Regions from separate parts of the Homo sapiens genome. Here region 2 is linked to region 1. The links come from fine-mapping of genetic effects on gene expression. A gene starts in region 1. The other region holds a variant in brackets. All regions are shown on one strand. Distances are between the middles of the regions. Region 1 holds the start of VRK3 (VRK serine/threonine kinase 3). Region 2 has its middle 13 kb from the start of SNAR-A4.

Evidence for each region. PIP is the estimated chance that this variant, and not a neighbour inherited with it, causes the effect. A credible set is the group of variants that fine-mapping cannot tell apart.
Region 2: its variant is the best candidate, but not a certain one, in a credible set for the expression of VRK3 in T cells (TOPMed, PIP 0.78).

Annotation. Positions count from the first base shown.
Region 1 is chr19:50,023,748-50,026,658 of GRCh38, forward strand. It overlaps VRK3 (VRK serine/threonine kinase 3), which reads right to left and starts at 1,625. Exons shown (of 15, transcript NM_016440.4): 1 at 1,520-1,625. It overlaps ZNF473 (zinc finger protein 473), which reads left to right and starts at 2,258. Exons shown (of 5, transcript NM_015428.4): 1 at 2,258-2,375. RefSeq lists enhancers at 931-1,432, 1,482-1,561, 1,902-1,951, 2,362-2,411.
Region 2 is chr19:50,078,037-50,080,947 of GRCh38, forward strand. No RefSeq gene overlaps it. Among named protein-coding and RNA genes, the nearest start is that of SNAR-A4, 13 kb to the right of the region's middle. The variant T/A (reference allele first, on the strand shown) is at 1,460.

The DNA of each region.
Region 1 (2,911 bases):
TCCCCAGCTGTGTCAGTACACATTCATCTCTCAGGCAAATCTAGACATCCAGCCAGAGACTCAAAGCTCAGGGCCGGAATTATCTAGCTGGATGGTCCCTAAAAAAGACGTGCCACTTAGAAGCAGATCAGTACAGGGGTTAAGAGGATAAACTTGGGAAATAATCTGCCTGGGTTTGGATCTTGCTTCTGCCATGTATTGCATGATGGACAGAGTTTTGCTATGTCACCCAGGTTGGAGAGCAGTGGCACGACCTCAGCTCACTTGCAACCTCCGCTTCCTGGGTTCAAGCGATTCTCCCTGCCTCAACCTCCCGAGTAGCTGGGATTACAGGCGCATGCCACCATGCCCGGCTAATTTTTTTATTTTTAGTAGAGATGGGGTTTCACCATGTTGGCCAGGCTGGTCTCGAACTCCTGAACCCAGGTGATCCGCCCACCTCGGTCTCCTAAAGTGCTGGGACTACAGGCGGGAGCCACCGTGCCCAGCCAAATTTTTTGGATTTTAGAACCTATTACATATTACAACACCGGCGAGATCCAGGGGCAACTCTCCATAAGTATATGATTTGCACAACAAAATCTTTAAAAATTCTAAATAGTCACACATCAGTTCAGAGTGGGTATTGCCAGCAAACAAGTTCAAAGCCAGGTGAGGTTGGCCTGCCAAGTAAGTTGCAAAACAGAGAAAAAGACCTTTCAGTTTTCAGAACGTTTTGGATTTTAAAGTTATAGATAAGGGACTGCAGACCTGTAAATATTCTTTAACATTTCTTTTTTAGTGTCTGGCATCCCCAACCACCCTGAGAATGTGAATTAGCTGGGCAGGATTTTTGTTTTAGACACTGCTATAATAACCTGGGCTTGAACAGTGCCTATTAGACTAGCACCGTTCAAACCCAGGTTATAGTAGTGTAATATCGGTTGCACGGAGCCTTCCATATAGTAAACGCTCAATAAAATTGGATGTGCTGAAGTCACCTATGCAATGGCCAGGTCAGGACTTGAAACCCTAAGACTCCAACCCTCAGGCCAGTCTTTATCTTAATTTATTTGACTTATTCAACAAATGTTTAGGGAACAGCTGCTATGCGTCAACTACTGTATAGTGTTCCTCCTAGAAAGTTCAGGAAACAGCACAGCAAAAAGGCTAAAAGTCAGACCCCACCTCAGCGCAGGTGGGGCGATTGCCTAGGCGACGACAGAGCCTCCCTTCGGCCGCACCTCCATAGAAACCACGGGATGACTTAGACGCCAAGTTTCACAGCGGAGGAGCTGTCGAACTTCCCACAAGTTCCGCCCATCTCCGCCTTAGCCATGCCCAACACGGAGCCCAAGGTGGCTTGGGAAGCTCAAGAGGAGGCCAGTGAACCCCGCGACCCGGAGCCGCTCTCATTCCGAACCCCGACAGCAGGGGCCTCCGCCTCCCACAAACGGTCGTGCTGACGTCACGGACGCCCCGGCCGAGCTGCGGCTAGGGGGTCGGGGGACGTCCCCTCGTTCGCCTCGCTTCCCCTCACCTCTGTACTTGGGGACTGGGGTGGGATTCTGGGCTTCTGCAGCCTGACCCTCGGATCCTCCGCAGTTACCCGGACTCACCTTCTCAGTTGCCCAGCGAAAACTTCCGCTGGGCGGAGAGCGCTGCGCGCGCATCCTGAATCTGAGGCGCCCGCGCAGGCGCCGCTGACTTCCTGACGGCCCCTGGGCTTCGCCTGCCTGGGAACTCCGTTTCCCAGATGCCTCCGCGGCAGGCCCGCCCTCTGATTCCAGACGGAATGGGGATTATTCCCTCATTGCTCATCCCCCTCCCCTCCGTTCTAGCCGCTTTGGAACGCCTTCTGGTTCTACTGCGCATGTGTCAGTGTCAGACCAATCGGAATGCACCGTGAGGTACCTCTCCACCAATCAGAGGTCACATTACCTAAACTTCTGCCTCAACTCCGCCCCTTACTTCCGCTTGTTTTCTCAGAAACCCGTCACAACGCGTTTCCATGGCAACCTACCGCTTGCTCTTCGGAAAAGGTTAACACTCCCTGACTTCTAGTAAAGGCAAGAAGCTAATTAGATGATTCTTTAACAAGGTAAAAATCTGGACTACAAACTGATGCCGCCTGGTCCTGATTCTCTTTCTACTCTACTCCCACAGTGCTAAGGCTGAAGAAGCAGGAGGAGATGGGAAGGCGAAAGAAGTCGCCCGCACAGCCCTCTGGGAAATAGAGTCCTGGCGCTGCCGCGGAGGATCCTGGGTGCAGCCGCTCAGAGAAGCTTCTCGCGCACAGGAAGTCGCTGCGAGGAGGCGCGTGTGCGGGGAGTTGAATCTCCCGCTCCCTTGAGGCTGGGGTTGCGTCTGTTGACGCGGCCGACTACAATCCCGAGGTACGGAGACGCTGGGGCTGAGGGACTTGCGGGCTCGGTCCTTCCTGAGAGGTGACGGAATGCAAGTGGGGGCGACTTCGGCAAAGGGTGCGTCGCCTTGGGCGGCGGTTGTCAGGGTGAAGGTGTGAACCGTCTTTCACAGTCTGTTATGAAAACCGCTCAAGGTCTGGGCACGGTAGATCACGCCTGTAATCCCAGCACTTTGGGAAGCCTTGGCGGGGGGGATCACTTACAGCCAGGAGTTCCTCGAACCCCCAGTCTCTACTAAAAATACAAAAATTAGTTGAGCGTGGTGGCGGGGGCCTGTAATCCCAGCTACTCAGGAGGCTGAGGCAGGAGAATCGCTTGAACCCAGGAGCTGGAGGTTGCAGTGAGCCGAGATCGCGCCATTGCACTCCAGCCTGGGTGACAGAGCGAGACTACATCTTAAAAAAAAAAAAAAAAAAAGAAAGGAAGAAAACCACCTTGGGAGGCTGAGGTGGGCGGATCGCTTGAGCCCAGGATTTCGAGGCTAGCCTGGGCCAGATGGTGAAGCC
Region 2 (2,911 bases), 54 kb after region 1:
ATGATGCCGTGTGATACAGCCAGATACAAGGGTATATGCTGTAGGATTCCACTTTTGTGAAATTGTAGAAAGAAAACACTAATATGGGCGGGGCATGGTGGCTCACGCCTGTAATCCTAGCACTTTGGGAGGCTGAGGCAGGCGGATTACTTGAGATCAGGAGTTCAAAAGCAGCCTGGCACCTGTAATCCCAGCTACCTGGGAGGCTGAGTAGGAGAATCGGGAGGCGGAGGTTGCAGTGGGCCGATCATGCCACTGCACTCCAGCCTGGGCAACAGAGTGAGACTCCAACTCAAAAAAGAAAGAGAGAAAGAAAGAAAGAGAGAGAGAGAGAGAGAAGGAAGGAAGGAGAGAGAGACACAAAGAAAGAAAGAAAGAAAGAAAGAAAGAAAGAAAGAAAGAAAGAAAGAAAGAAAGAAAGAAAGGGGCCAGAGGCCAGGCACGGTGGCTCACCCTGTAATCCCAGCACTTTGGGAGGCCGAGGCAGGTGGATCACGAGGTCAGGAGTTCAAGACCAGCCTGGCCAACATGGTAAAACCCCATCTCTACTAAAAATACAAAAATTAACCGGGTGTGGTAGCGAGTGCCTGTAATCCCAGCTACTTGGAAGGCTGAGGCAGGAGAATGGCTTGAACCTGGGAGGCGGAGGTTGTAGTGAGCTGAGATCACACCACTGAACTCCAGCCTGGGTGACAGAGTAAAAGAAAAGAAAAGAAGAGAAGAGAAGAAAAGAGAAAAGAAAAGGCTAATACGCAGGGGCAGAAAATGGATTAGTGGTTGACTGGGGGCAGTGGCAGTGGTTATGGAGAGACTGATTACTAGTGGACACAGGAAAACTTTCCGGATGATGGAAGTGATCACACAACCGAATACATTTGTCAAAATTCATTGCGTTTAAAATTGGTTCATTTAAATTCTTGTACATTGTTGCAAAATACACATAACACAAACTTTACCATCTTAGCCAATTTTTTTTTTTTTTGAGACGGAGTCTCGCTGCAATGCCCAGGCTGGAGTGCAATGGCATGGTCTTGGCTCACTGCAACCTCTGCTTCCCCGGTTCAAGCGATTCTCCTGCCTCAGCTTCCAGAGTAGCTGAGATTACAGGCATGAGCCACTTTCCCAGGACTTAGCCAATTTTAAGTGTACAGTTGCATTGTTGTGCAATCATCACCCCTACTCATCTCCACTCTTTCCTCTTGTAGAATTGAAACTGTTCCCATCAAGCAACTCCCACTGCCTTCCCTTCCCAGCCCCTGGGAAGCACGTTCTACTCTCTGGGAAATTCCCTATGAATTTGACTACTCTAGGTACCTCATGTAAGTGGAATCATACAGCATCTGTCTTTTTGTGATGGGATTGTTTCACTTAGCATGAATGTCCTCAGGCTTCACCCATGTTGTAGCATGTGTTAGCATTTCCTTCCTTTTTAAGGTTAAATAATTTTCCATTATGGGCC[T/A]GGTGCAGTGGCTCACACCTGTAATCCCAGCACTTTGGGAGGAAGAGGCAGGCGGATCACGAGGTCAGGAAATCGAGACCATCCTGGTCAACATGGTGAAACCCCATCTCTACTAAACTACAAAAAATTAGCCGGGCGTGGTGGCAGGCGCCTGTAGTCCCAGCTACTTGGGAGGCTGAGGCAGGGGAATCACTTAAACCTGGGAGGCGGAGGTTGCAGTGAGCCAAGATCGCACCACTGCACTCTAGCCTGGGCGACAGAGCGAGACTCCATCTCAAAAAAAAAATCCATTATGTGTATATACCACATTTTGTCGAACCATTTATTTGTTGATGAACAGCTGGGTTGCCTCCTTTACCTTTTGGGTATTGTAAATAATGCTGCTATGAAAGTGGGTTGCAAATATCTTTTTGAAATATTGATCCATTTTCTTGTACACAAATTATATTTTGATAAAGTTGGCTAAAACTAATACTCCCACCTAACATAACTATCTCTAGTGCAACTGCAGAAGCTTTCACCCCTTCTGCAAAGGGAGGGATCCCAAAGCCACATCCAATCCTCAGACCAAGATTTCTGGATATTGGCTATTCCTTTCATCAAGGGCACATGGAGTCTCTCTTGATCCTGAAAATTAATGTTAAGGCTGGGCACGGTAGCTCACACCTGTAATCCCAGCACTTTGGGAGGCCAAGGCAAGTGGATCACCTGAGGTCAGGAGTTCAAGACCAGCCTGGCCAGCATGGTGAAACCCTGTCTCTACTAAAAGTACAAAAATTAGCCCGGCATGGTGGCACACACCTATAATCCCAGCTACTCGGGAGGCCGAGGCAGAAGAATCACTTGAACCTGGGAGGCGGAGGTTGCAGTCAGTGGAGATTGTGCCACTGCACTCCAGCCTGGTGACAGAGCAAGACTCCATCTAAAAAAAAAATTAATGTTAAATGAAATTGTAGCCCCCTCAGCAACCCACCCCTGTGTATAACAGTGGAGGAAAAACAAGAAAACAATCACAATTCTCACTTGAAAGGGGAGGGAAGAGAAACAAAATAGTATATGCCATTTGCTAGACTTGCCAAGACTCCTGCACTTTCAAGAGACAAAAAACCGGCCTTTTAAAAAATTATTGCCAAGCTCGGTGGCTCATGCCTGTAATTCCAGCACTTTGAGAGGCTAAGATTGGAGGATCACTAGAGCCCAGGAGTTCGAGACCCAGCCTTGGCAACATAGCAAGACTCCATCTCTTTAAAAAAAAAAAAAAAAAAATATATATATATATATATATATATATAGCCAAGTGCCATGGTGTGCACCTGTAGTCCCAGCTACTCAAGAGGCTAAGGTGGGAGGATCGCTTGAGCCCAGGAGGTCAAGGCTGCAGTGAGCCATGGTTGAGCCACTGCAGTCCAGTCTGGACGACAGAGACCCAGTTTCAAAAAAAAAATTATTGAA